4 separate regions of the Homo sapiens genome follow, and regions 2, 3 and 4 are each linked to region 1. The links come from fine-mapping of genetic effects on gene expression. A gene starts in region 1. Each other region holds a variant in brackets. All regions are shown on one strand. Distances are from middle to middle.

Region 1 (5,678 bases):
ATAGGCACTACTAACTGTGGGATATGTGCTATTATTATCCCCATTTTATAGATGAAGAAATGAAGGTCTGGAGAGATCAAGTAGCTTGCCCAGGGTGAACCTGCTAATAAGTGGTAAACCAAGTCTGTCTCATTCAGTCTGGACTGTTCTCCCCAACGTGATCAAATGGCAAACAAGGCTCTTCCCAAGTAGATGAGGACTTTTCCCAAATCACTGCAAATGAGTTTGGTACAAGAAACACAAAAAGCGTGACTTCCCAGGCTGGAGTGCAGTAGTACAATTGCAGCTCAGTGCAGCCTCAGCTCCTGGGCTCAAGTGGTTTTCCTGCCTCAGCCTCCTTGAATAGCTGGGACTACAAGGCACACACCAGCGTGCTCCGCTAATTTTTAAATTTTTTGTAGAGACAGGGGTCTCGTTTGGCCTGAAGATTTCATATTCCTGGTTTCAAGCGATAAGCCTGCCTCAGCCTCCCCAAATCCTGGGATTACAGATGTGAGCCACCACACCGAGCCGAAGTCTTTTTCTTATAGGAAAAATCATTCCTTCTAGACCAAACTTTCTTATGGAAATCTGACAAACACTATGAGGCATGGGGCCTTGAGAACTGAGAGGTGACCCACCCTAGAAGGATCTGGACATAGAAGCTGCTGTGGCCAGTGCAGGCAGTGAGTGAGTGGCCTGGGTGAGGGTAAGGCTATTCTCCCCCACACTGCACTCTCCAACTCCACCCCGTCCTAGGCCAATGGAGAAACCTGGAGTTAAAGGGACTTGGGAAAGCTGGTTTCCTTTCGGTGTCTTCCACTCCCAATTCCCTCCCTTGCTGATGAAATTGGAGATGCCAGAGGTGGGTATGAAATGGTAGCTTCTGGGTCAGAGGCTAACCTGAAAATCAGACTTTAGAAACCTGGGTGGAGGTCTGAACCACTGTAGAGATTCAAATGAGGTGCTCACAATCTCCAGATGCATTTTCTAACTGGGCAGTCAGATGACCAGCATACCCTCACTCCAATCCCCAGCACCCCACCCCCGCCATCAGCCACTACTGCCAGCACATCACAGCTACCTGGGTACTTCTTAGCCTCTCCCTTCAGATCACAGCAATAAAAACCTTCCAGATGTAGCTAAAGGCTATAAAAGCTCAGCCCTACCCATTGCCTTTCACTGTCCTGGCCACAGCCAGGGAAGTCTCTCTGCAGGATTCTAGTGCAGCCACAAGATGACATCCAGTGGGCAGGGGGTTGGGAGCCTCACAGCCTGGCCTAAGGCTAACTTTCAAGGACAAAGGGCTTGGACAGAAGATTAGATCCCCGATTCCTGATGGATCCAGCCACTAACATAGATTTTTCAGGAACAGAACACACTTGATAAAATTCTCCTAGGGTTTAGGTGGGGAGGCAGGGTGCCTAGCTTAGGCCTGCGGAGTAAGGATGGGCTACAAAGTCTTCCCATTTGTGAACGCTCACTACCCCACCCCCCATCTGCCTGCTTATGTCCAATGTCAGTGCCAACTCCGTGGCCCTGGGGCAATCAGCGGTCAAGCCTCACCCCCCAACCCCACCCACCTCTAGCGGTCAAGCCTAACCCCTCACCCCTGCTAACTATGGCAATCTGGCTGGGTCCCTAACTGACTTCCCAAACTCCGCCACCTCTCCTCTAAAGCGCCCTGTCTCTACGAGGGAGGAAAGACAGGCAGCTTCAGCAAGGGTCCCCGGGGCCCCGGGCTCCCCCAGCTATCTAATCGGCTTCACCCCTGCACTCCCCCAGGGACAGAGCCTCACAGGGCCTCTCTTTAGCTGGGGGAAGGAGACAGAACGCTCCTTTTGAATACCTAAGACTTACCCACCCTCTTTTCCTCCAGCTTTCCTGCTGCTGGGTCACTGTTAGTCACTCACCATCCAGGCCCATTTCCTGATAATCCCCCAGCCCCCTGGGTGCAAGGCCCTTCTTATTCCCTCCAACACAGACACACACACACCAAGAGCGGGCTGGTCTCTAACTCCCAAACCGTAATCTGGGACACACACCCACACACCCACACCCACCCACCCACCCACCCACCGGGCTGGTCTCTAACTCCCTAACCCTAATCTGGGCCAAAATAGGGGGGTTGGCTCGCTTCTCTGCCAGGCAGAGTGAAGGGCAGCACTTCTCCCAGAGGGAGGGGGCCTCAGCTGGGGTCTCTCTCCAGGATCCTCCTGCTGCAAGCGCCCCAGCCTTCCAGACCAAAGAGGAGACAGGGCTTCTCCCGGCTTGAGAGGGACCAGGGGCAACCAGCTCTCCCCAGAAAAGTGAAACAGAGGGAGAGGTGACAGAGGGACTCCAAAATGTCAGGGCTGGGAGGCCTCGCAGACCCCTCAGTGCCCTGTACAGGGGTGAGAAGCCAGGCCCATAGGAGGAAAGAGGCTTGCTTGCTCTAGATCACACAGGGAGAACCCACAGTGAGAGCCCACAGCGAGAACACTTCGCCTAGGACTTTCCCACTAGAGCACAGGGGAATGACTCCAAGAAGGGAGTCCAGTCGTTAGTAGGAGTTCTGGAGGAGGGTTAGCACCTGGGGGGCTCTGGGAGCGCTGGAGGAGGGAGTGAGAAAGGGAAGCAGAGGGGTTCTTTGGAGAGAATGAAGGGGTGGGCCCTGGGGAGTGGGCAAAGAGGTGTAGAGAAGAGCCCGGCGTGACCTTGGGCCAGCTGCGTCTCCCTCCTGGGCCCGTCTTTCCGTCTGCAGGCAAGAGAGCGCCTGGGATCCCGGGGGGCTCAGGCTTGAAGGTGCCACCCCGGCGAGTGAGGGCGCCTCACCTTCTTGAAGTCGGCGGTGAAGGAGACGAGGGTGCCGTCGGGCTTGCGCAGCTCGAGGCTGATGCTGTCCGCGTCGCTGTCCGCCTGCAGGCTCTCCTCGGTCACCTGGCCGTCCGGCAGCCGCACGCGGACCCGCAGCTCGGCCGGCGCACCCGTTCCCAGCAGCGGCGCGAGCAGCGGCAGCAGCAGCAGCAGCGCAGGGCGCGCCAGGGGTACCCCGGGAAGGCGCATCCCCGGGGGCCGCTGCCGTCCGCGGCCCCGGCGCGCCGCGTGGGGGCGGGGAGAGGCGCAGGCAAACTTCGCCCAAAGTTGGGGGCTAGTTCGGGGCGCCCGGGAGCCGCTCCGCCGGGGGCCTTGGCCGCGGGGTCGCCCGCGAGGTGGCGCGGACGCACGTGGGTAGCGCTCAGCAGGGCGCCCCCGGCGGCCCCGAGGCGGAGACGGCGCTGCCCCGGCCCGGCTCCGCGGCCCCGGGCTCCAGCGCTGCGAGCCTGTGTTTTGCACTTTTCATTCAATCCCACCCCCCGTCACTTCCTTCAGAAAACAGAAACCACCAGGACCCGCCTTAAAGAGACCGCGCACCTCGCGGCCCTTAAAGGGCCCGCGGCTGCTCTCCGCACTTCGGCGTTGGCCGGGCAGGGGGCGGGGAGAGGGGGCAGCGGCTCCGCGGCTTTGTGCGAGCGGCCTCCTCGACCTCCCTCCCGCCCGGCCGCGCGGAGTCAGCGACCCAGGCGGAGTCAGAAGTTTGCTCTCCCGGGGCAAATCCCTTCCTTCCAGCAGGGGCAGGACGGGTGACTCTTCCCCCGCCCTGCACCGCCACCCCCCCCCCCCGCTTTTTTTTTTTTGGCTTGCTTTTGTGCCACGTGGATGAAATAATCGGGCTTGGATTTTTAGGGGTTTTGTTTGGTCTTTCAGTTTCTCTGACAGCGAATTTCTAAAAAGCTTCTGCAAAATCAGACCTCGCTTTGCACTCTGCCTTTTCCCTGCCCCACACTGGGAGGGTGGATCGGGGGTTCTCGCCCAGCTTTGCCACGGCCAGGTGTTAGACCTTGATGGGTCAGGTCACCCACTGGGACGCGGCCCTCAGGTTTTGTGAGCCCCTGTGCCTCTTTCCTTTTCAGTCCTGCCTCCCGTGCTTCCCGCATTCACGGCCTTTCCTCAGTCCTGCCCACCACCGCAGACCCGGTTCTTTCTCTCTATTATAGACTATGAAAATCCAGGGAAATGTTGGATTCCAGGTCACTTGGGAGAATTTCCAGGGACTCGGGACGCTGGCGCTCCACGACAGTGGCTTTCCCACAAGCCACAAGGAAACATGCGTGCCCTGCGGTGCACCCCAACAATAAGAAGGGTGAAGACCAGGAGATCTGGATTGCTGCCTCCTCTGATTAGTTGTGGAATTTAGGCACGTTTTAAAAATTCTTTGGGCTTAAGTGTCCCCGTGTGTATCGTGGAAGCTGCTCAGACCTACACTGTCCTGCCAGTCCCAGGCAAGGGAAAAAGCCCCACGAAGATGCTCAAAACCAATTGTTCCCTGACTTCCATTTTCACTTCTGTTGGGACCTTGATTACTGATGGGTGAAAACTCCCTTCTCTGCAGCCTCCTTCCCTTCTAGGGCTTCCCCAGCACAGGGCCATGTGAACTGCAGGGTCCGGCTAGAATCGGCCTCTTGCTATCATCCAGGGGCCCTTCCCGCTACCCGCTCTCTGCTGCCTAGATTTAGGACTGAAGGGAATTTAAGAGACTACCAAGTCAGCCTTTTCCAAATTTGCCTTTCCTGAAGAATCACCTGGATGCTTGTTAGAAAATAGATTCCCGAATCCCTAAACCCATGGAATCAGATTCTAGGGAAAAGAACTGAGGATTAGCATTTTTGACAAGGCCCACATGATGCTCGACATAAGTGGTTGACAGCAGGTATTTGGCAGATGTTTAAGCATAGAGCGTCTGGGCCAGACGCGGTGGCTCATGCCTGTAATCCTAGCACTTTGGGAGGCCGAGGCGGGCGGATTGCCTGAGCTCAGGAGTTCGAGACCAACCTGGGCAACAAGGTGAAATCCCGTCTCTACTAAAATACAAAAGAAATTAGCTGGGTGTGGCGGCGTGCGCCTGTAATCCCAGCTACTCGGGAGGCTGGGGTAGGAGAATTGCTTGAACCCAGGAGGCAGAAGTTGCAGCGAGCCAAAATTGCGCCACTGCACTCCAGCCTGGGTGACAGAGGAAGACTCCGTCTCTACAAAACAAAACAAAACAAAACAAAACAAAAACATAGAGCATCTGAAACAAGCAGCATCCTTCCTGGAGAACCTGGCTCCTAAGGAGTTCATCTTCACATCCGGGAGATAAGGCAGGCTGTTAGGGAATAATTGGATTAGCACAAGGATTGCTCCCCTAAGGACTCCCACTCTTAGCTGGCAACCGTTTAGACTAGAGATGCCCAGGGTCTTGAAATTGGCCTCCCGCCTGACAGGATGCTGGATCTCCATGCGGCCTTGAAGCTAGGTCTCCCACATGAGTCAGCCCACACAGTCATTAAGGGCCTCGCCCACATTTCCTAACTTCCCTTGTTTCAGGTCCTGTCCCCATCCGCCACCAGCTCTGCCCTCAGCCATTTCCCAGGCTCTTACCCCTTCTCCTCCCACAACAGCCCAGAAGTGGGCAAAGAAGCCCTGGATGTCAGATTTCTTGTTTAGGTCCCTGAGGTTTGTCTCTGTTCACATTTTGGGTTTGGAAACAAGGATGGAAGACCTCATCTCTTTCCCACCTCTTCCCCATAGTCAACTTCCTTCTCTACTTCAACCACAGATCAAACCAGATTTTTCTTTGAAAGTGATAGGGCATTTGAAATCTCACTCCATTACATAAGCCCTGCCTACCTACATCTCTA
Region 2 (5,678 bases), 20 kb after region 1:
TGGGATTCTAGTGCAGGCCCACTCTGACTTTGAGAGCACAGGTTCTACTCTCTCCCCACTGTATAAAAGGTGGGGAGTCCCTGACCCTGACCTGTGGGGTCTAGGGTGGAAAGGAGCTGGCTGGCCAAGGACTTGCCTGTGGTGTTCGAGTAGGCATGTAAACACCCATGAGAAGAGTGTTCACACCTGGGGTGCAAATGGGGGGAGGCAGGAAGCAGGGAAGGGTGGCCACATGTGGCAACCTTTGCTGGCCAAGGAGGCAGAGGTGCCTCTGGTGGAAGAAGACCTTGGGATCGGCCAGCAGCAGCCGTGAGGCACATCTGAACCCTCTCCCCGCACAGGCCCCATACAGTGGGGACTGCTGGCTCTGAGCCTCCCTGGGGCACACAAAGAAGGTTTACCTTTGCCCAAGCTGGTTGGCAAGACCCAGGTCCCATCCTGTCCCAGTGAAGGGTGAGGACTCTGGACTTCTCTGGCTCTGTGTGCTCCCTCTGGTCCCAACACAGCGGAGGACTGGCCCCTGCCTGCCTCTGGGGCCGCTCTGGTGGTAGTCAAGGTGAGTTCAAGGTCAGCAGCATGCTGCCACAGCCGCAAGCCGGCCTCGTAGCTCCTCCCTCAGGCCCCAGCCCTGGAGCACTCTGGAGCCGATCATGGGAGGAGGATCTTTCCTGAACTTTGTCTCTGGAGGGCCCAAGCCAGTTCTACCGTTGGTGTGTCCATTTGCAGAGGGGCGCCTGGTACCAGTCCTCCCCTGAGGGGCAATGCCCCCGGAACTACAGCTGGGGAAGGGCAGCAGGTCTGGAAACAAGCCAAGAGCACCCCGTCTGGTGCCGGTGGACTTTCTTGCATGAATTGGCAGCTCCGTCAAGCTTTGGCATCAATTCCAAAAGTGGAGCATTGGGGCTTGTCCTGTCACCTGGAGATTCTGAGCACATATTTACAGTTTACAGAAGTAGAAACAAAAGTAACCCTTTTATCTCCTCAGAGGAAGCTGGCCCTTCCACTGAGTACAGGAGCCGGAGACAATGTAACCTTCCCTGAGAAGATACTCTTTGGGGTAGGAGGCAGCTGTCTAGACGTGGCACCACCGAATGCACCCTAGCAAATCAGGAAAATCTCTTTTTCCTTTTTTTTCTTTTTTTCTGAGACAGAGTCTTGCTCTGTCGCCCAGGCTGGAATGCAGTGGCGCGATCTCGGCTAACTGCAAGCTCCACCTCCCGGGTTCACACCATTCTCCTGCCTCAGCCTCCGGAGTAGCTGGGACTATAGGCGCCCGCCACCACGTCCGGCTAATTTTTTTGCATTTTTAGTAGAGACGAGGTTTACACCGTGTTAGCCAGGATGGTCTCGATCTCCTGACCTCGTGATCCTCTCGTCTCGGCCTCCCAAAGTGCTGGGATTACAGGCATGAGCCACCGTGCCCGGCCATCTCTTTTTCCTTAAAATGCTCAACTGGTGTGTGCAGAACTCCCCCTTGCCTCAGCAACTGGGAGGAGTGCCTTGAAATGGCAGCGTGGGTCAGGAGCTGGGGCTCTGGGTCTAAGTGCCAGGTCGGCCATCTGCAGGAAGGAGCAGCAGCAAGATTCTCTACTGAGCTGGGCCCTGCTTTCCTCACCCGGTGGGGAATGTCTTTCAGCTGCGGGAGGTTATTTGTGACTGCCATCTTTTTCTCTTCTCTTCTTTTTTTTCAAAAAAAAAAAAAAAATCTTTGTGAGAAAAACCCCACCGTTCCACTTGTTTTCTCCGAGCCGTTTTGTTAGTTGAGGTGTTTGCATGCTGAGCAACACACACTAATATTTTCCTCCTCGTCAAAACATTAATTATCCCACCCAGGAACCTTTCTCTTGGATGTTTTTTCTTTACCACCCCTTAAGCTGTTGGGCACCAAGCGATTCCTGTATTTCCCATCATCTCAGCAAGCTGACTGTGATGTTTAAGGAGAGAGAGGCCCCCTTGGCTGGGTGCGGACCCTCCTTTGTGCTCTGTGGCACCCAGTAGTCAGGATGCAGTACTCAGGAGAGCTCCTGTCCCCCTGCTTCTCACTCTATGTGCGAACCATCTGTTTACATCTCTTGTCGTCTCCCACGAGGCTGTGAACGTCCTCATGTCTGTATTCCCGACACCCAGGACAGTGCCTGGCACAGAATAGTGGCCCTACAAATGTTTGCTGCACAAGCACATAAATGAATGAAAATGAAGATAGAATAATAAACACGCAGTAGGAGGAGTCAGGGTTCAAATCAGCCCCCCTGGTTGGGCCCCGCCCCCCAGCCTCCATCTCTTGCCTGTTCATAGAGGGAGCAGTTGTAAGCACAAGTTGGGTCCTTTGCTCTCCCTAGCACTTGGGAAGCCCCATCCTCTCTCCCTGCTTGAGGCCATTCTCAGCTGCCAGACAGCCAGTGTGTTCAGGGGGAGCCCAGTTTCCTCCTCCCTGGTCTCCCCTTGGTTGAGAGTAAGATGGGACAGCAGGGAGAATTCAGAACTTTAGAGTCTGGAAATTAGGGAGGCTCCAGGGAACAAATGCAGAGCTCGACAGGACCTTAGCAATCACTGGAGCCAGCTCCTCCCCTCCTCCCGCTTCAAAGACAAGCCTCCCAGAGGGCTGAGATGTCTGGTTCATGGTCACCTACAGGTGAGAAGTGGGGCTGGGATTCAGGCCCTGGGCAGTTATCAAGAAACAAGAGCCTCCTAATTAATTCTGAGTACAGGGCCTTTCTAGTCCCTCCTGCTACCGTGTTCTGTGCCACAGTGAGGAGGGCATGGCCTCATCATCTCCCTGTGTGCAGCGCAAACTCCTTTCATCTCCCTTTCAGCTCATTTGATCCCCACAGTGCTCTTCTGAAGTAGGCAGAGTGATGATTTCTCCATTTTGCAGATGAGGAAATTGTGGTGCAGAAAGCGTAACGGAGCTGCCTAAGGTAGCAGAGCTGTCCTGCGGTAGAGTTAGGGCTGCAGTCCTGCATCCAGAGCCCTGTGCCTGCACCCACCACATGCTCTTTCCAGGTCAGATCTCTCTGCTGCTCTGCCCCTTCCCACTAGGAGCCTGAGCATCTGATTCGACTTGGCTCCAACAGAGATACCAGATGTCCTGTAGTCAAGACCAGAGCCCAGGATCCCTCCTTCCCAGCTATGGCCAGGACTCTGCAGACAGTGGACCTCTCCGTGAAGGCCCAGAGCTTTCAGCCCTAGGCCCAGGGGCTGAAGGGCTGGCGAGTCTTCGTTGTTGAGATTAAAGCCCTTCTCCAACTGGAGAACATTTAAAATGAAACCTCCCCGTTGCATTTGTCCTGCTCAGTTTTGGAAAGTGGGCAGGTAGCTCACGAGAGGGTTCTCGTTCAGCCCCTGCCTGGCCTTACCACCC[T/C]CTTCTTTGGCCCTAAAATCAAGTGAGCTATTCTTTAGCAAGGGTGAGACACTAGGCACTGGCTTGGTCCACTTCGAAAGGGTAGAAGGGGGCTCCTAGGAAGGTATGAGCGATCTAGCCACTTCCCTCTCCATTCTGCATGCCGTACTGTCCTCCGTGTGTGCTTTAGAGAAAGGTAATGGTATGGCTGTTCCATGCAAATGTGTTTTCTCAAAGACATGACTTTTGTACCATAAGCTGTTTCCATCTAGGACCTATTTCTGTGGGATGGTCTGAGGGTGAAGCTAAGGAGAGAAGGCATATGTGAATTTATTTTGTTTATCTGAACATCTGTGTTTGGCCGGCCCCACCCCTACAATGTAAGCTAAAATGCTGTATAATAGGTTTATGTATGTACCTATACTGCCAAAGGTCATGGTTGAATCCTGTGACTAGGTAGAGTTTACCTGTCAATTGGCTAAATCAGAGACCCATATGTTTCATAGTCAAGGAGATTCTGCAGCATAAATGGCTGGCCCAGGGACCACTGGCCTGTATGCATCACTGCCCTGCTCATAAACCTCATGGCTCCCCACTGGCAAATGTTGAGTCCACCTTCCTCAACCTGTATTCAAGGCCTGCCATCATCTTCTTCCTGCCAGACTGGCCTTCAGGTCCTGTGCCTTGGCAGGTGAGCTTTTCCCCTGCCTCCCTTCTCTCTCTCTCTCTCTCTCTCTTCCTCCTTCCCTCCCTGTCTCCCTTTCTTCCTCCCTTTAAAGAGCACCAGACACTGTTTTAAGTGCTGGGGACACAGTCACTAAGTGTGGTGGACAAGACACAGGAGGCTTTAGCTTACGTTGTAGAGGTGGAGACAAAAGAAAACAGATATTCAAATAAACAAGATAAATTCAGATAAGTGCTATGAATACAATAAAACAAGATGATGTGCTACAGCAGGGGTTCCCCCACCGCCCATGCTCCTCAACGTTAGATTCTCAAAGGATGTGAACCCTATTGCGAATTGCACACTCCTTATGAGAATCTAATTCCTGATGATCTGAGGTGGTACAGTTTCATCTTCAAACCATCCACTTCCTGCCCTCCCATCCGTGGAGACATTGTCTTTCATGAAACTGGTTCCTGGTGCTAGAGAGCTTTGTGGGTAGGAGTGAGGCTGAATTCTCCCTACCCCCATGGCCTTCACAGGTAAATGCTGCCCATTGGTCAAAGCCTGCCCACATGTCACCTCTTCCAGGAAGCCTGCCTGCCTTCTCAGCTTGGCAGTGTTCTCTCCCACCACTGGACTCCAGAGCACTTTATTCCGCTCCCTTGCAGGGTGTGGAGTGGCTTGCAGCACAGTCCATGGTCATCCTTGCTGCTGGGCTGTAAGTTCCTTAAGGGTGGAGAAAGCACCTCTTTCAGCCCCTGCCTCCCACTTCCCCGGCACTTCCCTGGCACAGAGTAGCTGGTTAATAAGAGTTTGCTGAGAAAATGTGCAAGGATATCTCCTACCTCAGAGGGCAAAGAGCAGCCGGGGCCCATCCCCAGGGTCACCTGCTGAGAAGAGGCCACTTTTCTCCCTGGAGAGGGACAGAGGAAGGGGTATAGTTGAATGGGAGAATTTATGCCCAGGGCAGGAGGTGGTGGGTGGGTTCAACTCACCAAGGTAATCCTGTTGGACAGGAACACCTCACACTCTTCTAAACCTTTACAGACTTTGCTCTGATGAGAGGCCTAAGAAGAGTGTCATGCCCCTTCCTTGGCTTGGGGAAGTCTGGACCTGTGTGTAGGGGCGTGGGGTGAGGTGGGGTCGGTGTGCATTGTGCCAGGGTGTATGGCTCAGAGCATGTGTGCAGTGAGGTGTTTGTGAGGTGTCTGTGACTGTGGTCCTAGAACTGTGGGCATAGGATGTGTGAGAGAACAAGTGAGTGCGTATGTGAATGTGGTGGTGAGGTGCGTGCAGGGTGGCTGGTTTGTGTAGTGTCTTTGTGTGTTTGGATGTTGAGTGGTGGGCTGGTGGTGGTGGGGGTGTGTGTGTATCTGTGGTACAGCCCGTGGGGTTGGGGGACAGGGAAGGGTGGAGCAGCAGTGGCCTGGGCTCTGGGGGGCCAGCATCTGTGGTATTAGGGCTCAGAAAATGATACCCACAAAGATGGCACTTTGACATGCTGAATTGAAGAAGCAGCCTCCAGGTCTCTCTGACCTACCTCCCACAAAAGCCCCTGTCTCTCCCAAAGCACAGGATGAGGCTGTCTTCTGAAGCTCCCATATCGAACTGGAAACTGGACTCCCAAGCAGGAGCAGAATTGCCTTCGATCCCTCTCCTGAAATTTCATTA
Region 3 (5,678 bases), 52 kb after region 1:
AAAAACTCTCAGAAAACTAGAAAAGTGACTTTCTTAATCTGACAAAGGGCATCTATGAAAAACCTACAGCTAAAATCATACTTGCTGGTGAAAAACTGAATACTTTCCCCATAGATGAGGAAAAAGACCAGGATGTCTACTTTCACCACTTCCATTAAACAATGTACTGGAGATCATGGCCACTGCAATAAGGCAAGACAAATAAAGACATAAATACTGAAAATGAAGTAAAACAGTATGTATTCACAAATGACATGATAGTTTACGTGGCTAAAAACCTTATTAAGACAAATAAGTGAATTTAGTAAGGTTGGAGGATACAAGGTCAATACATACAAATGCATTGCATTTCTGCATATTAGCAATTGGAAAAATAATTGGAAAAGGAAAAATTCCAATTACAATACTATTATAAATAACAAAATAGTTAAAAATTCTTTAACAAAAAGTATGCAAGAACTGTGTACTGTAAATTACAAGACATTGCTAAGTGAAATTAGAGAAGACCTAAATAAATGGAGGGATAAGCCGTATTTATGAGTGAGAAGAGGTAATTTTTGCCAAATTAATCTAAAGAGTTAATGTAATTCCAATAATAATCCTAGAAGGCTTTACTGATAGCATTTTACAGGCTTATTTTGAAAATATATAGAAGTACAAAAGACCCAAGTTATCCTGAAAAAGAAGCAAAACAAAGCTGAAGGATTTATGCTAGATTACTTTAAGACTTAGAAAACTACAGCAATCAAGACAGTGTTGTATTGGCATATATAGACAAGTGGATCAGTGAAACACAATAGAAATTCTAGAAATACGCTTGCACTAACATAGTTAATTGATTTTGGACAGAGGTGCTAAAGCAATTCTATAGAGGAAAGAAAATCTTTCAACAAATGGTGCTTAAACAATTGGACATCTTTATTCTGAAGAAAATGAAACTTGACCCCTGAACCTTATGCCATATATCAAAAAATTAATTAGAATTGGATCATAGATCTAAATATAGCAGCTTAAAATATACCTTTTTTAAAAGTAAGCATAAAATAATATTTTTAAGACTCAAAGGTTGGCAAAGATGTCTTGAATGGAACCCAGAAATCAATAATCATTAAAGAAAAAATAACATATTAGACTTCATTAAAATAAAAAAAATTTTTGCTCATCAAGAAGCATTTCTGCTTTCAGCATGATAGAGTAACAGCGACTAGATTTACCTTGCCACTTTCAACAACTAGAAAACTGGACAAAATATGTGAAAAAAATGTTTTACAGACATTAAATAATAGGCAGTGCAGGGCTGTGATCCTTAAGAGAAGGGGAACAAATGAAGAGAGCCCTACAATGGCTTATTGCCTGGAGGCAGTTTCCAGGTCACAGAGCAGGGGGAGAGAAGCAAAATACACCTGGTAGTCTCACTGAATTGAGAAGAAAGTTGCAGTTCGGGGAGGCCAAGGTGCTTGAACTTGCAGGGCAGAGTAACAAAGAGGAGAAAGTTCACAGAAACAGACAGAGGTCTGAGATCTTCATAGGTGTCCCTTGAGTCTTTGACAGGCTACTTGGATTTATACTCTGTGAGAGTAAATGACCCAAAGCTGAAGAATCACCAAAGGATGGGCAGAATTGTATAGTGGTGAAGTCTGGGCTTTTAGTATACCTGTCACCCAAATAGCATATATTGTACCCAAACAGGTAGTTTTTCATCCCTCACCCCCCTTCCACCTTCCTGCCTTCTGAGTCACTAATGTCCATTTAACCAAAAACTACTCATAACCCTAAAGCTATTGACATAATAATAATAATAAAAGAGTGGGCAGAACAGTTTCTGGAGCTTATATGGAACTTAGAATTTGTGTTCCTACCAGCCAAAGTTGAGAGATCGTATAATACATGGGACATTAGATAGAATGTTCAGAAGGGTATTGGCTTAGTACTGGGTTAAATTAATTCTAGTCTAAAGGCTGCAGTGGGCCCACTTTAATTACAAAGCTTAATCATAAGGTTTGCAAGGATCCAACTTAACTTATGCACCAGAATAAAGTCCAATACTACTTCAAAAAACACAAAAAAGTCCAGCACCCAGTGATATAAAATTGAGAATGCCCAACATTTAATTAAAATTTCTAACACAGAAATAATGAGGGAATATGACCCATATTCAGGAGATAAACCAACCAATCAAAAACAGATATAATAAAATTAGCAAACAAGAATGTTAAAAAAGTTATTATAAATATGATCCATAGGTTAGAGAAGGTAGAGGAATGCATGAACTTAATGAGAGAGAAATGAGTACTAAAAAGACTCAAATGGAACTTCTAGAAATGGAACTTCTAGAAATGCAACTATCTGAAACAAAAAATACAGTGGATGGGATTAGTGGAAAATCAGACACTGCAAGAAAAAAAGGATTAATGAACTTGAAGATTGAGCAATATAAATTATACAAAATAAAGCACATAGGGAAAAATACTGAGTTAAAAAATGAACTTCAATGACCTGTGGAGCAATGTAATTGGAGTTATAAGGGGACGATGGGAGACGGGAGAAATAGAAAAAAATTATTTCAAAAATTTATTAGTCAAATGTTCCCAAATCCAATAAAAAGTATAAACCCACAGATCTAAAAAGTTCAATGAACCCAAGTAGAATAAAAATGAAGAAAATGACATCAAGGTATATTATAATCAAATATCTGAAAATCAATGATAAAAAAATATCAAAAGCAGGCAGAGGAAAAAAAGACATCATGTACAGAGCACAAAGATAAGAATGGCAATAGAGTTCTCATTAAAAAAAAAGATGCCACTGCACCCCGGCTTGGGCGACAGAGCAAGAATAT[A/C]AAAAAAATAAGTAAATAAATAAATTTGTTCAAAAATCCAGCAGAAAAAAAGACAGCCAGAAGATAAAGGTGTGACATCTTTAAAGTACTGCATGAAGGATAACAAACGAAAAACAACCCCTGTGTCCTAGAATTCTATAGCAAGTCAAATACCTTTCATAAATGAAGATAAAATAAAGGGCTTTCAGACAAACAGAAACTGAGAAAATTCACTGCCAGTAGAACTGCACTACAAAAAAAAAACTTAGAGGAAGGTCTCAGAGAGAAGAAAAATAATACCATATGAGAATCTGACTCTACCCAAAGGAGTGAAGGACACTGAAAATAATTGAAAGATACAAGGGTAAATATAAAAATTTTTTCCTTACTCAAAAGTTTAAAAAATTTAATTGAATATTTGAAGCAACAATAACAGCATAGTATTTTGGCTTTGTAACAGGTGTAGAAGTAAAATTCTATGACAACAATATCACAAAGGATGAGAGGGAAATATAAATTGGCCTGTATATTGTTACAAAGCTTTTATACCAGGGATTGGTCAATTATGGCCCATAAGTTAAATCCAGCCATCCACCTGTTTTTCTATAGCTCATGACCTAAGAATGGTTTTTACATTTTTAAATGGTTGAGAAAAAACCAAAAGATAAATAATATTTTGTGACATGAAAATTATATGAAATTCAAATTTTAGTGTTTGTAAATAACATTTTATTGGAATACAGATCATTCATTTATGGATAAGCTGTGGCTGCTTTTGCTTCAATGGTGGAGTTAAGTAGTTGCAACAGAGACTGTATGACCCACAAAGTTTAAGATATTTAATGTCTGACACTTTATGAAAAAAGTTTACTGACACCTGTTTTAAAATATGTGAAATGGTAAAGATTATTTGAAGGTAGATGTGGTAAGCTAAAGGTGTATATTGTAAAGTGTAGAGCAACCACTAAAAATAAAATAAAGAGAAACAGCTGATATACCACAAATGGAGATAAAAAGGAATCATAAAAAGTCCTTACTTACATCCAGAGAGGGCAGAAAAGAGGGACAAAAGGAGCACAGAACAAACTGAGCTAATAACAAATAGCAAGAAGATAGGTTTTTACCCAGCAATAGTGATAATTACTTTAATTGTAAATGGTCTAAACACTTCAATTAAATGGCAGAGATTGTCATATTGGATTAAAAAAAGATTCAACTACAATGTTATTTATAGGAAATTCACTGTAATAAACGTATAAATAGATTAAAATTAAAATGATAGAAAAAAATGCCATGCAAACACTAATGAAAAGATATTGAGGAGACTATATAAATAATGTTCAAAGTAGACTTTGAATACTACAAAGAACAAAGAAATATTTCCTAATGAAAAAGAGGTAAAATAATCAATAGGACAAAAATCTGAAATGTTTATGCATTTAATAACAGAGCTTGAAACTATATGAAGCAAAAACTGATCTGAAAAGAGAAATAGATATGTTCACAATTATAGTTGAAGGTTTTAACACTCTTCTCTCAGTAACTGACAAAACAAGTAGAAAGAATATCAGTTAGGGCATAAAATATTTGAACAACAACATCAATTAACTTGACCTAATTGACATTTTATAGAGTACTGTATCCAACAAATCAGAACATACATTCTTTTCAATTGTACAAGTAAGATCGATCTACCAAGATAGATTTCTGGAACAGGTCTCAAGATTTAAACAGTGTGAAATCATAGAAAATATGTTCTCTGACACCAGTGAAATAAAAGCAGAAATCAATAAGCAAAATATATCTAGAAAATCCCCCAAATATTTGGAAATTGGACAGCAGATTTTGAAATAAACCAAATCAAAAGGATAATTAGAAAATGTTTTGAACTGAATAAAAAAGCATACAGGGCTCTCTCTCTGCTGCCACCATGTAAGACAAGCCTCGCTTCCTCTTCACCTTTTGCCATGATTGTAAGTTTCCTGAGGCCTTATCAGCCATGTGGAACTCTTTGGGTTGCAGGCCATACTCCTGTGCAAATGCTTCACTGGCCAAAATTGCCACTGCAGCACCATCTGAGGTAGGACTAAGAGAAAGTGGAAATAATTCTCCACACCCAGTACCACCTTAATCATAGGATTTCAGACTAGGAGTTCCTTCTATGTGAGAAGAAAGGCCAATACGATTGCTGGTCAGTAGATTATCTTTTTTTGCAATACCTGCAGTTGTAAATCACACATACTTCCCACTTGAGGACTGAACCTCTGTTAAGAACTTAAGTGTTGTCAGTCACTACTTGGCATCTAAGAGTCCCAAAAAGTTGTTATTGCAAAGAATCACCAATTTGCCTCTGGAGATGCATAAGGCATCTTCTGGGGACTTCTAAGGCGTGAGTCCAAAGGTGATCCCTATCCTGGTAGAAAAAAGATTCTACTATAGACGAAAAAAAGCATGTAAACAAAGTTTCTTGGATGTAGCTAAATCAATGCTTAGATAGAGACATATAGTATTATATGCTTTTATTAGAAAAACATGTTCTAAAATCAATCACCTGAGCTACTGCCAAAAGAAACTAGACAAGAGAAAATTAAATCCAATTAAACCCCATGAAGGAAATAAAAAGATGAAAACAGAAATCAATGAAATATTAAAAAATGAGAGAAAAATAAAAATCTAAGAAATCTCAAATATATCGTTTGGAAAGTATTTTAATTGCTTCCTATTAACCAAGTAGGTGACAGAGAAATTCCCACCCTAGGGTTATGGGGATGACACAATGCCTGACACCAGATGAAACTGACAACAGTTTGTTAGTTACATATACTCATAGCCAGCAGGAGGAGGACACCACATCTCATGC
Region 4 (5,678 bases), 67 kb before region 1:
ACAGGCCCAGGGAGGCGGCTTCTCGAAGGGCCAGGGGAACCCTCTTTGGGTGGGAACACTTCTCCACCCCACCCTTTACCTGGCAACCCTCCCTGAGCCTGCAGATACTATCTCTACCATCTCTGCTGGCAAGCCTCAGCCAGAAGAGGTCTGCGGGTGTTGGTATGACTGACAGGGCTTTGGAAACATGGAAAAGTACTGGACACATGTCAAGTGAGGGGCTCTGGGTAACATTAGGTCATGTCTCATTTGCAGGAGTGCACACACACAAACACACTCTCTCTCTCTCTCTTTTTCTCTCTCTCTCTCTGTCTGTCCTCTTTCTCTCAAAAGCAGCCTGGTATGGTAGAAAGTCAGACAGGCCTGTCTTACATCTGAGCTCCACCTTGGGCAAGTTACTTAACCTCTCTGAGCTACAGTTTCCCCAGCTTTATAATGGGAAGAATAATGCTTACCTCACCAGGCTGTTGTAAGGATTAATTAGGTAATCTCAAGTAAGATATCACCTATGTAAAGTGCCTGGCACAGCACTTCAACTTTGGTTTGAATTCTGGCTCTAAGCAGGTTGCTTGACCTCTCCTAGCCTCAGTTTCTTCATCTTTAAAATGGAAATATAAAATCTACTGCTCTGGGTGGCTATAGGTTTAAATGAGATACTGCTTGCAAAGCACTCAACCCACTGCCTGTTATAAACTGAAGGTTCAATAAATAGTATTAACTTCCCCTGTTATTGTTTGGGGCTAAATCCAGCTTCCCTTTCAAAAGCCTTGCTCCAAAGAGACGCCTGCTTGAAAAAGGGAAGGCCTGGCCCTGCTTTTAGTGTCATCAGTGTCTGCATCCACCAAAGGCAACTCACTGAAATCTCCAGAGAGAAGCCACTTTTTGGCTCCTGCACAATCAGGTGAAGGACCCCTACCTTCTTCTCCCTCCTTCATTCTCACTGTTCTCCACCCAACACCTGAGCCAAGACGAGCATTCGGTCTCCGCTACCCATCCAGAATGCATGCAGAGCTCATGCCAGTGCTGGAGCCGGAATCAGCTAGGCCCAAACCCCATGCTGCAGAGGGGCTTTTTGGTGGTGTTTGGGGCTGTCTGGTAGACCAGCAAGTACTAGGCACAGGCTTCTGGAGAACTCAGACAGCTGTTCCTGTTCCTCTGTGCTGTTCATTATGGGGCTTGCCACAGGGCTTGGTCCACCCAGTACTGGGGCTGCTGCCCAGGCTACAAACAGGAAACAGTTGACACCTGAGCCTCAGGCCAAAGCACCAAGCATGGCTGGCAAAAGAGGACAAATTCCCACCTCTCCAAAAACAAACACGTTTACCAACTGCTTCCCCGCCCACGCTTGCAGAGGGCGGTGGGGCTGAGATTGGGAGATGATGGATTCCAGAAAAAAATTACCTCTCTAATAGCATCTGCAGCCCTCCAACCTGGTGCAAGCCCAGCTAAGTAACCACACAGGGAGAAGGGTGGTGGAGAAAATGATGGGTTCTTATTCATCAGAAAATAATAAGAGCTAATGTTTATTGGTGCGTTATTGTATACCAGACATTATTCGAAGTACTTTATAGATCTTAACTCTATTCATTCTTACGCCATCCCTAGGAAATAGATACTCTTACTGTTCTCATCTTCACATGAGGAATCAGAGGCGCAGAGGAGTTGACCAATACAGACAATATGACCCAACCACCATATCACACGGCCTCCTCCCGAGACAAGCAGGCAGTGGTGGGGGGAGAACCACAGAGTCGGGAGTCTGGCAAGCCTGTCTTTAAATACAGACTTCTCTGTGAACAGTGTTATGATGGGAAAATTCCCTAACCTCTCAGTGCCTCAGTTTTCCCATCTATGGAATAGGAATGATGACAACTACTTCACAGGGTTGCTAAACCCTTTTATACTCAATGCCCGGCATACAGTCAGAGTTCAAGAAATGCTATAATTATTATAGTATCTTGACTACAATGGGGACATCACTTTGGAGAAGGGAGTTATTTAATCTTTTTTTATATATACTTTAAGTTCTGGGATACATGTGCAGAATGTGCAGGTTTGTTACATAGGTATACACGTGCCATGATGGTTTGCTGCACCCATCAACCCGTCATTTTATCAGGTATTTCTTCTAATGCTATCCTTCCCCTTGCCCTCCACCCCCTGACAGGCCCTTGTGTCCATGGAGAGTTATTTAATCTTGCCAATTATCTCCTGCCTGAACATTCTGCTCCATATCCACCTAATCACTCAGTCAGCGCAGCTCATTCCCTGTGGGGGTGGCGCTGGTTTACACACCCCTTGCTCTGACATTTTTAGGAATTTTTCAGACCCATCTCCCTCACTGGATAAACAGCAAGTAAGTTCTCTGAGGGCAGAGGCTGTATGCATTCTTTCTGGGGGCGCCTTTTCCTGGTGTTGTATTTCTATGTGGAAAGTCTCCAGCCAGTCACATCTGGCTCTGTCTCCTGGTAAGAGAAGTGACTTATCCCCTTGGTGGGTCAAGGTCACTCGTTCTCACTGGGGATCACAGCTACCCCGGGAGATGTTTTCTGAAATCTGTGGCGTGGTTTCTCTGGCTGTCTTAATAATTAGGAGGCGTGGTTTGCATTTATTGGGCTGAGGGCAGGTA[C/T]TCTAGACATCTTGCGCTGTAGAAGACAGTATCAAATAAACACTTCTTTGCATCCCATACAACTTTTTATATGACTTCCAAGTGCCCCACCGGACATCTGTGTCGGTGAACAGCCTGACTATAATCATATAAGCCCAAAACCCAACTCTATTTTTTATGTGAACACAAAGTATCTTTTACACACTCTTAATATGCATTTTACCCAGGGATGCCATTTTCTGTGTTAATTGAGGAAGTATTAGATTTGGCTGGAGCTTTACAAAGAGTTGTTTAACACTTTGAAAGATTGTGGCTTTTGAGCAGCCAGGATAGCATACCAATATCAGCCTGTACTTGTGTCTGTCACACTCATAGAGGCATGAGGGACCTACTGTCTCATTAAACCTTTTAGGGGAATATGTCTAAGGATATACCTGCTGAAATACACATTGTTTTATAAATTACTTTGCTTTTTCCTTTTTATTCAAATTAGACAATATTACTGATTTTTATTTGTATATCTGTTTTTTCTTTTTTGTAACGGAGTCTCGCTGCTGCCCATGCTGGAGTGCAGTGGTGTGATCTCAGCTCACTGCAACCTCCGCCTCCCGGATTCAAGTGATTCTTGTGCCTCACCCTCCTGAGTAGCTGGGTCTACAGGCATAAGCCACTGCGCCCGGCTAATTTTTTTTTTTGCAATTTTAGTAGAGATGGGGTTTTACCACGTTGGCCAGGCTGGTCTGGAACTCCTGACCTCAGGTGACCCACCTGCCTCAGCCTCCCAAAGTGCTGGGATTACAGGCGTGAGGCACCGCACCTGGCCTATGTTTTCTATAAATTTCACTCTAAGATATTAAAGGGGTTTTACAGGAGCCTCATTACAAGAGACACTGGATCTGATAAAACTGAGAACATCAGGGTTAGAAGGAGGTGGAGGGTGTGGCTTGGTCCCATATGGGCCTTCTGTCCAGATCTGCCTGTTGACTAGGAGGGTGCTTTTTAAAATTTTTTTATTTTTTATTTTTTGAGACAGAGTCTGGCTCTATCACCCAGGCTGGAGTGCAGTGGCACGATCTCGGCTCACTGTAACCTCTGCCTCCTGGGTTCAAGTGATTTTCCTGCCTCAGCCTCCCAAGTAGCTGGGATTACAGGCGTGCACCACCATGCCCGGCTAAACTTTTTTGGATTTTTAGTAGCTAATTTTTTTGTATTTTGTATTTTTAATATTTTTTTGTATTTTTGTATTTTTAGTATTTTTATTTTTGTATTTTGTATTTTTGTATTTTTTAGTAAAAAATGCATATTTTTGTAATTTTGTATTTTGTATTTTTTATAGAGGTGGGGTTTCACCATGTTGGCCAGGCTGGTCTTGAACTCCTGACCTCAGGTGATCCACCCACCTCGGCCTCCCAAAGTGCTAGGATTTCAGGTGTGAGCCACTGCACCCGGCCAGGAGGGTGCTTTCAGGTCTGTTTTCTGCCGGCTCTATCTGTGCCTAGTGGATGTGTTTAATTCTGCAGTGAGGTCTTAGAAAGCCTGTTGTGGCCAGGCATCAAAACCGTATCTCCAACATAGCTCTATCTGTCAGGCTCCTGCATTTAAATTTCTGCTTTGACATTTTGGAGGGGAGAGAGAGGTTATTATAGACTGACCCTGAAAACCCAGCTGTACTGCTTAGGGTTGAGCAAAATGTGGTTTGTTGGCTCCTCATCCTCTTCTCTTTCTTAGCCTGCCCCGCCCTGCCCTGCCCCACCACCCCCAAATCCTGTGTCCACCAGGAAGTACAGGACTGGAGGCTGGATCCTGGAACAGAAGCAAGCAATCCTCAGGGGAACAAGAGTCTTTCAGCCCTCAGTTCTCATCCTCCCAAAGAGGTCTCGGAGCCTCCCTCCATTGGACCCACTACCCTGAGGCTCTATTCTCCTGGCATGGCTTTCTTAGGCCCTCTGAACCAGCCCCACTGACCTCCCTCTCTGCGGCAGACCCTACATCTTCCCCACTGGGCTGGGAGCTCCTGTGGGCAGGGACCATGATGTACTCTTCTGTGTCTTCCTAATAGTCAGCTAAGTGCAGGTTTGTGGAACTAAACAATCCAACATGGCCTATTCATTCCCTCCCTTGCTCTCTCAGGCTCAGTGGCTTTGGTGCTTGCTGTCCTGAGGCTGCTCCTGGTTGTGGGGGGGCACTTACTCTGCCATCACCACGGACCCTCCGTTGCCAACTCCAGGGCCTGGCACTGCTGCCCCTGCATTTCCCTCACTGGCCTCCCTGAAGAAACCTCTCCATCATTCTGGGTCCTTGGAGACCTTTCCGTACCTGAATCTTGTTGATTTTAAAGAAGATGCCCCAACGAGCCAATTAATTACAAGTCAATTTGTACTCGGAGCAGCTAGAGAACCGTGGTAGTTGGTTGGTCACATTCAACAAAACAATGATGGAAAATCCCAGTTGGTTTAAAACTAAATGCTACACTAGGGCACACCAGGGCAACTCCTCAGGACGAGCTGGCGCAGGTGTCCAGAAACAGGCATGGGAGAGCCATTGGTGCAGGTGAGCTTAGAATGCTGCCAAGTGTGGGGCTGAGAGGAAACCCCAGGCCACTGATTCTCAGCTTTTGGGGCAGGAAACGTGGGACAAGGACAGCTGCCAACTTGCTTCAGACTCTCTTCTGGCCTCACAGGACTTTTGGGAGGTCTTCAAGCAACACAATGCTCAACAGCATACATAAAACACTGTCCTGATCTGCCTGGTGGAAATCCATGGCCCTGGAAGATGAGGGTTCCAGAAGTTACCGGAACAGAGCAGGTGTGAGGCCACCTACGTATGCAGTTGTCATTTTGGAACCCCCAAGCCCCTTTAATCCAATTCTACCTCCCAGTTTTCTTCTGAAGTTAGCTGGTGGCCCAAAGAGCAGGAAATGGAGTGGAGAGACTCCAGGCAAGGACAGCTGTGCCCTGGGCTCCTGAACACAACTGCCAGGGCACTCAACCCTCCTTCCCTCTCAGAAGAGCCCTCCACTGGGGTCCTCCCACTGCCACCACCAGATCCCTCTTTCCTTTCTCCTGCACTG

Which allele goes with the higher level. Positions count from the first base shown, and alleles are read on the strand shown. Sizes are in standard deviations (SD) of each study's normalised expression. Not every link is listed here.
In carriers of allele A in region 3, the expression in prefrontal cortex of the gene that starts at base 3,272 in region 1 tends to be higher than with C alone (moderate effect, 0.42 SD a copy in CommonMind).

What was found. PIP is the estimated chance that this variant, and not a neighbour inherited with it, causes the effect. A credible set is the group of variants that fine-mapping cannot tell apart.
Region 2: its variant is the best candidate, but not a certain one, in a credible set for the expression of OAF in atrial appendage (GTEx, PIP 0.69).
Region 3: its variant is the best candidate, but not a certain one, in a credible set for the expression of OAF in prefrontal cortex (CommonMind, PIP 0.78).
Region 4: its variant is the best candidate, but not a certain one, in a credible set for the expression of OAF in whole blood (TOPMed, PIP 0.72).

What each region holds. Positions count from the first base shown.
Region 1 is chr11:120,208,626-120,214,303 of GRCh38, reverse strand. OAF (out at first homolog) reads right to left here and starts at 3,272. Exons shown (of 4, transcript NM_178507.4): 1 at 2,794-3,272. The coding sequence starts at 3,024. RefSeq lists silencers at 2,955-3,064, 3,155-3,204, 3,385-3,644 and an enhancer at 3,978-4,519.
Region 2 is chr11:120,188,171-120,193,848 of GRCh38, reverse strand. It overlaps LOC105369530 (a long non-coding RNA gene), which reads right to left. Exons shown (of 3, transcript XR_948101.2): 1 at 5,003-5,678; 2 at 4,853-4,920; 3 at 2,578-4,733. Among named protein-coding and RNA genes, the nearest start is that of OAF, 20 kb to the left of the region's middle. The variant T/C (reference allele first, on the strand shown) is at 3,362.
Region 3 is chr11:120,156,681-120,162,358 of GRCh38, reverse strand. No RefSeq gene overlaps it. Among named protein-coding and RNA genes, the nearest start is that of TRIM29, 21 kb to the right of the region's middle. The variant A/C (reference allele first, on the strand shown) is at 2,840.
Region 4 is chr11:120,275,247-120,280,924 of GRCh38, reverse strand. All of the region lies in intron 3 of POU2F3 (POU class 2 homeobox 3), which reads right to left. It overlaps LOC105369531 (a long non-coding RNA gene), which reads left to right. Exons shown (of 4, transcript XR_007062924.1): 3 at 5,289-5,413. Among named protein-coding and RNA genes, the nearest start is that of POU2F3-AS1, 12 kb to the right of the region's middle. RefSeq lists a silencer at 4,551-4,740. The variant C/T (reference allele first, on the strand shown) is at 2,630.